2 linked regions of the Homo sapiens genome follow. The protein of the gene in region 1 interacts with the protein of each later gene in a biochemical or structural test. Each region holds a gene or a part of one and is shown on either strand. Other genes may lie near its edges. The genes, in order: VMP1 and TMEM41B.

What was found.
Region 2: the proteins of VMP1 (region 1) and TMEM41B form a complex in vitro, tested with the Homo sapiens proteins (one study listed by BioGRID).

Annotation. Positions count from the first base shown.
Region 1 is NC_000017.11:59,710,556-59,714,472, forward strand, and holds part of VMP1 (vacuole membrane protein 1), read left to right. Parts: intron 1-3,917. UniProt on the Homo sapiens protein: Phospholipid scramblase involved in lipid homeostasis and membrane dynamics processes. Has phospholipid scramblase activity toward cholesterol and phosphatidylserine, as well as phosphatidylethanolamine and phosphatidylcholine.
Region 2 is NC_000011.10:9,312,534-9,316,450, reverse strand, and holds the start of TMEM41B (transmembrane protein 41B), read left to right. Parts: upstream 1-1,857; 5' UTR 1,858-2,009; coding exon 2,010-2,130; intron 2,131-3,917. UniProt on the Homo sapiens protein: Phospholipid scramblase involved in lipid homeostasis and membrane dynamics processes. Has phospholipid scramblase activity toward cholesterol and phosphatidylserine, as well as phosphatidylethanolamine and phosphatidylcholine.

The sequences.
Region 1 (3,917 bases):
CTCTTTAGCTAGTTTAGTCTTATAAATTGTAGCATAACAAAAACTGTGCTTGGCTAGATTTGAAGTGTAATAGATTAAGGAAAGAAAATCAGTTATATTCTTCAGAATAGTTTGTCTGAGTTCATGCTTCATGACTGTCATGTGTTGAGTTATCTTTCTGGCAAGTGGAAATGACGGAGGAGCCTTAACACGTGTCTACTGTGAATGTTGTTGCTAAAGAGTAGGAGAGAACTGGCCAGGCGCCGTGGCTCACGCCTGTAATCCCAGCACTTTGGGAGGCCGAGGCGGGAAGATCACCTGAGATCAGGAGTTTGAGACTAGCCTGTCTAACATGGTGAAACCCGGTGTCTACAAAAAATACAAAAAAATTAGCTGGGTGTGGTGGCAGACGCCTGTAATCCCAGCTACTCAGGAGGCTGAGGCATGAGAATCGTTTGAACCCGGGAGGCGGAGGTTGCAGTGAGCCGAGATCGCGCCACTGCACTCCAGCCTGGACAACAGAGCGAGACTCCATCTCAAAAAAAAAAGAGAAGAAAATAAAAGAAAAGCAGTAGGAGAGAACTGTATTATTTGCTCTTACAAAAAAAAAAACCTCCCCAAGCTGTTTGTAATTTTAATATTTTGTTATGTTAATTATCTATTATATATAGAGCCATTTCTCTAGTTATTTTATTCTGGGTAAATAGCCATTGTAGAAGAGTTAATTCTTTGCATTGTTGGGTACTCTTTTTTTTTGGTTCCATTGATTTAACAAACTTTTTAGTCTCTTTAGTCTTTCTCGGAGATGATAGTTCTAGGTGCTACTGTCATTCCTGTTTTTGCCCAAGTGCCCTTGCTGTGTCTCCCATTTTGGTGTGGAAATGAACTCTAGATTAGAGAATCCTAATAAACAGGACAAATTGAAGTGATAACTTTGTCGTGGTTTTGTAAATTGTTACTCTGCTTTCACAAAGCCTTGCAAATATTTTGAGGAATAGTAAATTGCTAAGAGCATATTGCCTCAAGAAATTCCTTATTTTATATGGGAAAGCAGCTTTGGATGGAGTTTGCTGAACTGAAGTTAGGTATTATGTAGGCCCTTATATAAAGCTTATTTTAAAATATGCTCCTTGATTTGCAGCATCAAGGAAATTTGAACAGGAGATAATTTTCTGTGTCAGATAAAAGGTGATACTTAAAGTTTAAGGCATATTTAAATTAAGCAAGGGCAATCTATTGAGTAATTATATCACAGCTAATATACCTATAATTGCTCAAGAGTTTGTTTGTATTCTTGAACTACTTAATCTTTTCAGTAGTTCATGGGAGTATTTTCTCTTGTCCTTGAGTTTTTTAATGATAACTTTGTTCTTTATAGATTACCTGGAAGGACTAGGCAGGTAGTGTTAAAAGCCAGGGCTATAAAGCTAGACTGCTTTTTTTCAAATTCTAGCTCTATTACTATGCAACTCTTGGATTAGTTACTTTTTACTTCTTGCTATCTCAGTTTCCTCCTGGACAATGAAGTCAATACCCTTCTTGTTAGGATTGAATGAATAGGTTTAAATAAAGCATTTAGAACAGTGTCTGTAGCATATAGTTAACCATGATTGTGATCATTATCATCATGTGGCCCCCTAAGCTATTGCCAAGAACTCTTTCCCAGCCCTCTTTTAAAAGCATAGCTTTATGTTGCTGCTTACTTAATTATTGTTTGCTCATTATTAATGAAGTTCCAGTAAATAAATATCTGAGTATACACTTCACTTTGTCTATATTTTACAACATATGTGAGATTCTTAACCAAATGAGGCATTCTTTTGGGCCATTCTGTTAACTTTTTGGTATTAACAGACTACATTATCTGTGTAAGCCATAACACAGAATTTGGCAATTGAAACTTTTGATGTTTCATGATGTCTTTTAGCACTTTCTTGGAATGGAAAGATCATTTTCCAGTGACATCTATTGCCTTATCTGTTCATTATCCAGTCAGTGAACAAACATTTTGTGTCCCAGGCCTTACACCAGGTTCTGGGGAAAACAATGGGAAATAAGAATTGTTAGGAAGGCAGCACATGAGGGTCTAAGAGAGAGTTAACAATGTGGATATATGCTTATTTGAGGCTGGAGCATAATAGACTTGGAATACATTGACATGAGATGATATAGGAAATATATACAGGATCCAGGTCATGCAGAATTTTGCAGGCCAAGGGAATGAGTTTGAATTTGATTTTGAGTGCAGTAGGAAATCATTCTACAATTTTAAGTAGAGGAGTAATAGGATTTATAAGAAGTTCATTGTTGTTCATGTGTGAAGGATGAATTGAAGCGGGCAAGAACAGAAATGGAGAGAGAAGTTGAGAGTCCACTGCATAGTCCAAGAAGAAGATGAAGATGGTCTGGACTAGAAGGGTAGCAAAGAAGATGGACAGTTGTGTGTGGATACCAAATATATTTGGTATAGGACTTGGTCCTGGGTTAGATGAGTGGTAAGAAAAAGGGAAGTGTCAGGGATGACTAAGCTTCTGGATTTAGTGACTGGGTGGGTGGTTGTGCCAGGTACTGGGAGAAGGGAGGTTTGGAGAAGACCAGGTTTGTTTGTTACAAGAAGGTGGGTAGGTGTAGGGAGAAAAGGACATGTTAATTTTGAGACACTTAAAGAATCATCTATGGACACAGGAGGGGGGACATCACACACCGGGGCCTGTTGTGGGTTGGGGGAAGGAGGGAGGGATAGCATTAGGAGATATACCTAATGTAAATGACGAGTTAATAGGTGCAGCACACCAACATGGCACATGTATACATATGTAACAAACCTGCACATTGTGCACATGTACCCTAGAACTTAAAGTATAATAATAATAATAATAATAAATCATCCAAGTCACGCACTTACATATATAAATCTAGAGGTCAAAACCAGAAATACAAATACGGGATAGTATTTTCAACCATGGACCAGATGAGTCACCTGGGGAGATAGGGAGAGGAGAGGGCCAAGGGCAGGTAAAAGAAAGATCTGGGCTGGATGCAGTGGCTCACTCCTGTAATCCCAGAACTTTGGGAGGCTGAGGTGGGTGGATCGCTTGAGTCCAGGAGTTCGAGACCAGCCTGGACAACATGGCAAAACCCCATCTCTCTTTTTTTTTTTTTTTTTTTGTTAAAAAAAAGAGAGACTTTTTTTTTTAACAAAACGGAGACTAAGAAGGTATCTTAGGGCTGGGCACAATGGTTCACACCTGTAATCCCAACACTGAGAGGCCAAGGTGCGCAGATCACTTGAGGTCAAGAGTTCAAGATCAGCCTGGCCAACATGGTGAGACCCCATCTCTACTAAAAATACAAAAATTAGCTGGGCGTGGTGGTGGGCACCTGTAATCCCCACTGCTAGGGAGGCTGAGGCATTAGAATCGCTTGAACCCGGGAGGCAGAGGTTGCAGTGAGCCAAGATCGTGCCACTGCACTCCAACCTGCGCAACTGAGCGAGACTCCGTCTTAAAAGGAAAAAAAAAAAAAAAAAAAAAGAAGGTTTCTTAGTCCGTTTTCTGTTGCTTATACCAGAATACCCGAAACTGGGTAATTTATAAAGAAAAGGAATTTAATTTTTATAGCCGTGGAAGCTGAAAAGTTCAAGATCGAGTGGCCACATTGGGTAAGGGCCTTCTTGCTGGAGGGACTCTGCAGAGTGCCGAGAGTATCACATGGAGGGGGAGCTGAGTGTGCAAGCTCAGTTCTCTTTTTCTCTGCTTATAAAGCAACCAGTCCTACCCCCATGATAACCCATTAATCCATTAACCCATTAATTTATGAATGGATTAATTCATTCATAAGGGCAGAGCCTCCGTGACCCAATCACCTCTTAAAGGCCTTGTCTCACTCTACTGCCACATTAGGGGTTAAATTTTAACATGAGTTTTGGAGGGGACACA
Region 2 (3,917 bases), on another chromosome or scaffold:
TGTGCTTTCCTTACTGATTTGTAGTAATTCTTATGTGTCAAATACTTCTCAGTGTTTGTTTTTAGTTTTTGTTGTACTTCAATTTTTAATGTTTGCATAGTAAAATATATAAAATGTTTTCTTTTTTTTTTTTTTGACTTGAACTCCCGACCTCAAGGTGATCCGCCCACCTTGGTCTCCCAAAGTGCTGAAATTACAGGTGTAAGCCATGGCACCTGGCCCATAAATATAATTTCCTAAGATTGAAAATTTATTCGGCTGGGCACCATCTCAAAAAAAAAAATTATTCAACAAATTCATTGAATGGCCACTTAGGTATTGGCACTCTGTCAGCTACCGGGGATACAATGGTGATCAAAAAGACAAAGCCCAGCTGGGAGCCATAGCATGGAGCCTGTAGTCCCAGCTACTCAGAGGGCTGATGCTTGAGGATCCCTTGAGTCCAGAAGTTCAGATCCAGCCTGGACAATATAGTGAGATTCCCATCACTTAAAAAAACAAAAAACAAAAAGACAAAGCCCCTGCCTTAAAGCTTATATTCTAAAGGTGGAGGCAGACAATAAACAAGTAAACAAATAGTTCACAGAATTAATTGCTTTTAATGACTATGAAGGAAATAAAATGGGAGCCAGAAGTAGGCAAAGGATGTGTACATAAAACAGTTCAATTGAATGGGTTTCCCATAATTTACTTAACCATTTTTATTTAGTGTTGGATTTTTATATTGCTTTTAGTTTTTCACTGTTATACTAATACAGAGGAATTATTTATGTTTATTTTCATGGAATAATTTCCTACAAATGTAATTACTGAATAGAAACAATCAGGATTTTTTTTTTTTTTTTTTGGGACGGAGTCTTGCTTTGTGGTCTATGCTGGAGTGCAGCGGTGCAATTTCTCACCGCAACCTCAGCCTCCGGGGTTCAAGCGATTCTCCTGACTCACACTCTCGAGTAGCTGGGATTACAAGCCATCATGTCCAGCTCATTTTTGTATTTTTAGCAGAGACGGGGTCTCATCTCACCATTTTGGCCAGTCTGGCCTCACACTCCTGGTCTCAAATGATCCGCCCGCCTTGGCCTCCCAAAGTGTTGGGATTACAGGCTTGAGCCACCGCGACCGGCCTCTAAGTTGCTTTCAAGAGGTAACCACGGTGAGTAAGCTGAATGTGCTCTGAGGGGTAGAAGCAGAAAAAGTTACCTGTGGAAAAGGCATGTTTCCGCTTAGCTTAGGGATAAGCTAAATGTAGAGCTGACTTGGGTTTAGTAGTAAGGGGCAGCAGCTAATGCAAAACCGTTAGCTTTGGGAACAGGACAACCTGGATTCTAAGCCCATTTTTGCCATCCTGTGATCTTCACAGGTTGTACGTAGCCCTCTCTGAGCCTTAGTTTCCTGAAATTCAGGTAGGTTTTGCTCAACCTTTGTATTTCCCACCATCTTTTAGATCAAGCACTCTCTGGCGCCTCCAAATTGAAGACAGCAGCTGCGGAATTGATGTAATGGGCTGAATCAGCCTCAGCCGCGAAATGCCGACTAATCACAGGCACCTCCGGCGGCCTGGACAAAAGGTTTGAAGTCCCTGGGACCGCACTTCCGGGTAATTAAGGCTACGCTTTAGACGCCAGGGCCAGCGAGTCGCAGCCGGGTGACTCGAGTGCCGCGACTGCGCATGCTCTCGCCCCAGCGCCCGGCGGCCACCTCTTTCCCGCGGGCGGGCCGGGGCGGGGCACTGAAGGGGGCGGTCCAGGACCCTGACTTGTCTCGCGGTTACTGGGCCGGCGCGAGCACGCGAGGCTCGGGGGCGGCACGGGGCGGGGTTTAGCCTGTGGTGGGCGCTGCGGGTGTTTGCAGGAGGTTGCAGTACTCGCTGGGCTGAGGTCGTCTCGGGTGAGGAGGTCGCGCCGGAAGTGGCTCTAGCCGTGGCGCTTCGGCGTAGTAAGGAGCCTGCAACAGAGTTTTGTTGTTTAGGGGGCGCGGCACCGCACCGCTCCCTTCACCTTGCAGCAGCCATGGCGAAAGGCAGAGTCGCCGAACGATCGCAGTTGGGCGCTCACCACACGACCCCCGTGGGGGACGGGGCAGCGGGGACGCGGGGTCTCGCGGCGCCTGGCAGCAGAGACCACCAGAAGGGTGAGTGGGCCCGGGGAGCAGAGCTGGGGGTGGCCCGAGGCTTCTGTGTGTCGGGTGGGGAAAAGGACCCCCGCTATTCTCGGAGAGTCGCGGGGAAAGAGGGGGGCCTGCTGGCGCCGCGGCGGGAGCAGAGACCGTGGGGGAGTTGGGCTTGGGCGCTCGCGCAGCACAAGGCCGGACGCCGAGTAGGTGCGTTGTAAATGCTGTTTGAGTAGAATTCATTTAAAAGAAGGGATGACACTGGCTTGTTGACGCTCAGGTAGATTGTAAGGTTGATGATAACGACGCTAGGCAGAGCTGGAAGGAGCTGTACTGTGGCATTCGCTGCGTTGTTTTTACAGATGAAGAAACTGAGGCCCAGTGTGGGTATATGACTTATAAAGTCATAAAGCCAGATCAGTGAAGTAGTAGTTAGGAGCGAGGACTTAATACTTCCAGGTGGCAGTACACCTGGGCTTGAGTCCCTGCCCTACTGTTTACTTGGAACCTTGGACTTGGTAACTTTCAAAAAAAGCTCAGTGTCTGAACTGTGAAATGGGGATAATAATAATATCTACTTAATAGGTGGTGCGTGGGTTAAACGAAATAATTCACGTAAAAGATTTAGAGCAATGCTTGGATATGAAGTGGGGGCTAAATAAATATTAGCAATTACTTAGTTACAGCTAAGGTCACTCATTCTAAAGTTTATTTCCCCACTACATCATCCTGACATTTCTCACGGCTTTATTTTTGGTTTTTGTTTTCTCTTTATTCCTACTGCCTCTATAATTGCAGAATCTCACGGCTTTAAATATTGTTTTAAGGAAAAAACTGTACGTAGAAACTAAATACTTTGATTCCGTGTTGGCCTGGAATCGTTCTTTAAATGATTTTAAAGCTCATAAACTTAAAGTGATCCTAACAAGTTTGTCTGTAGCTCACATAGGTGTGTTCCACCACCAGTGATGGCTAGGAGAACTTCTAAGAGTATGTAGTAGAAAATGTTAATGTATTTTCAAATAATTTAAAATGTCTCCAACAGTCTAATTTGGCTCTGTCAGCCTTATGTTTTTGGGTATTTTTCCAGCTTATATACACTGGATCCAGGTGACTTCATATAATTTCAAAAACTGAGAAATGAATCGTTGTTAATGTATAAATCAGCTCTGAATAAAAGAAAGATTGTTTTGAAGACTCTACTACTGAGGGTGACAATATTCCAAGGTCTGGGTTTCCTGAAAAAGTGTTCCAGATAGGGCATCCCTAAAAATTGACATCTCATTTGAGGTAGCAGCCAGTTGTATTCATGATTTTTACCTAAAGCTATTCAAAAAATAAAACCTTGAAACTTCCAAAGTGCTCTTACTTTTTAATCTTATTTTATCATTACAACAAAACATTCAACACAATTATTCTTTTTTTTTTTTTTTTTTTTGAGACGGAGTCTCGGTCTGTCACCCAGGCTGGAGTGCAGTGGCGCAATCTTGGCTCACTGCAAGCTCCGCCTCCTGGGTTCACGCCATTCTCCTGCCTCAGCCTCCCGAGTAGCTGGGACTACAGGCGCCCACCACCACGCCGGGCTAATTTTTGTATTTTTAGTAGAGATGGGGTTTCACCTTGTTAGCCAGGATGGTCTCGATCTCCTGACCTGTTGATCCGCCCGCCTCGGCCTCCCAAAGTGCTGGGATTACAGGCGTGAGCCACCACGCCTGGCCTACAATTATTCTTATGATGCTGTCCCATGACATCTATAGATCACAAATCTATAGGAAGACAGGGAAGAGATGTGAAGGCGTGCCTTCACT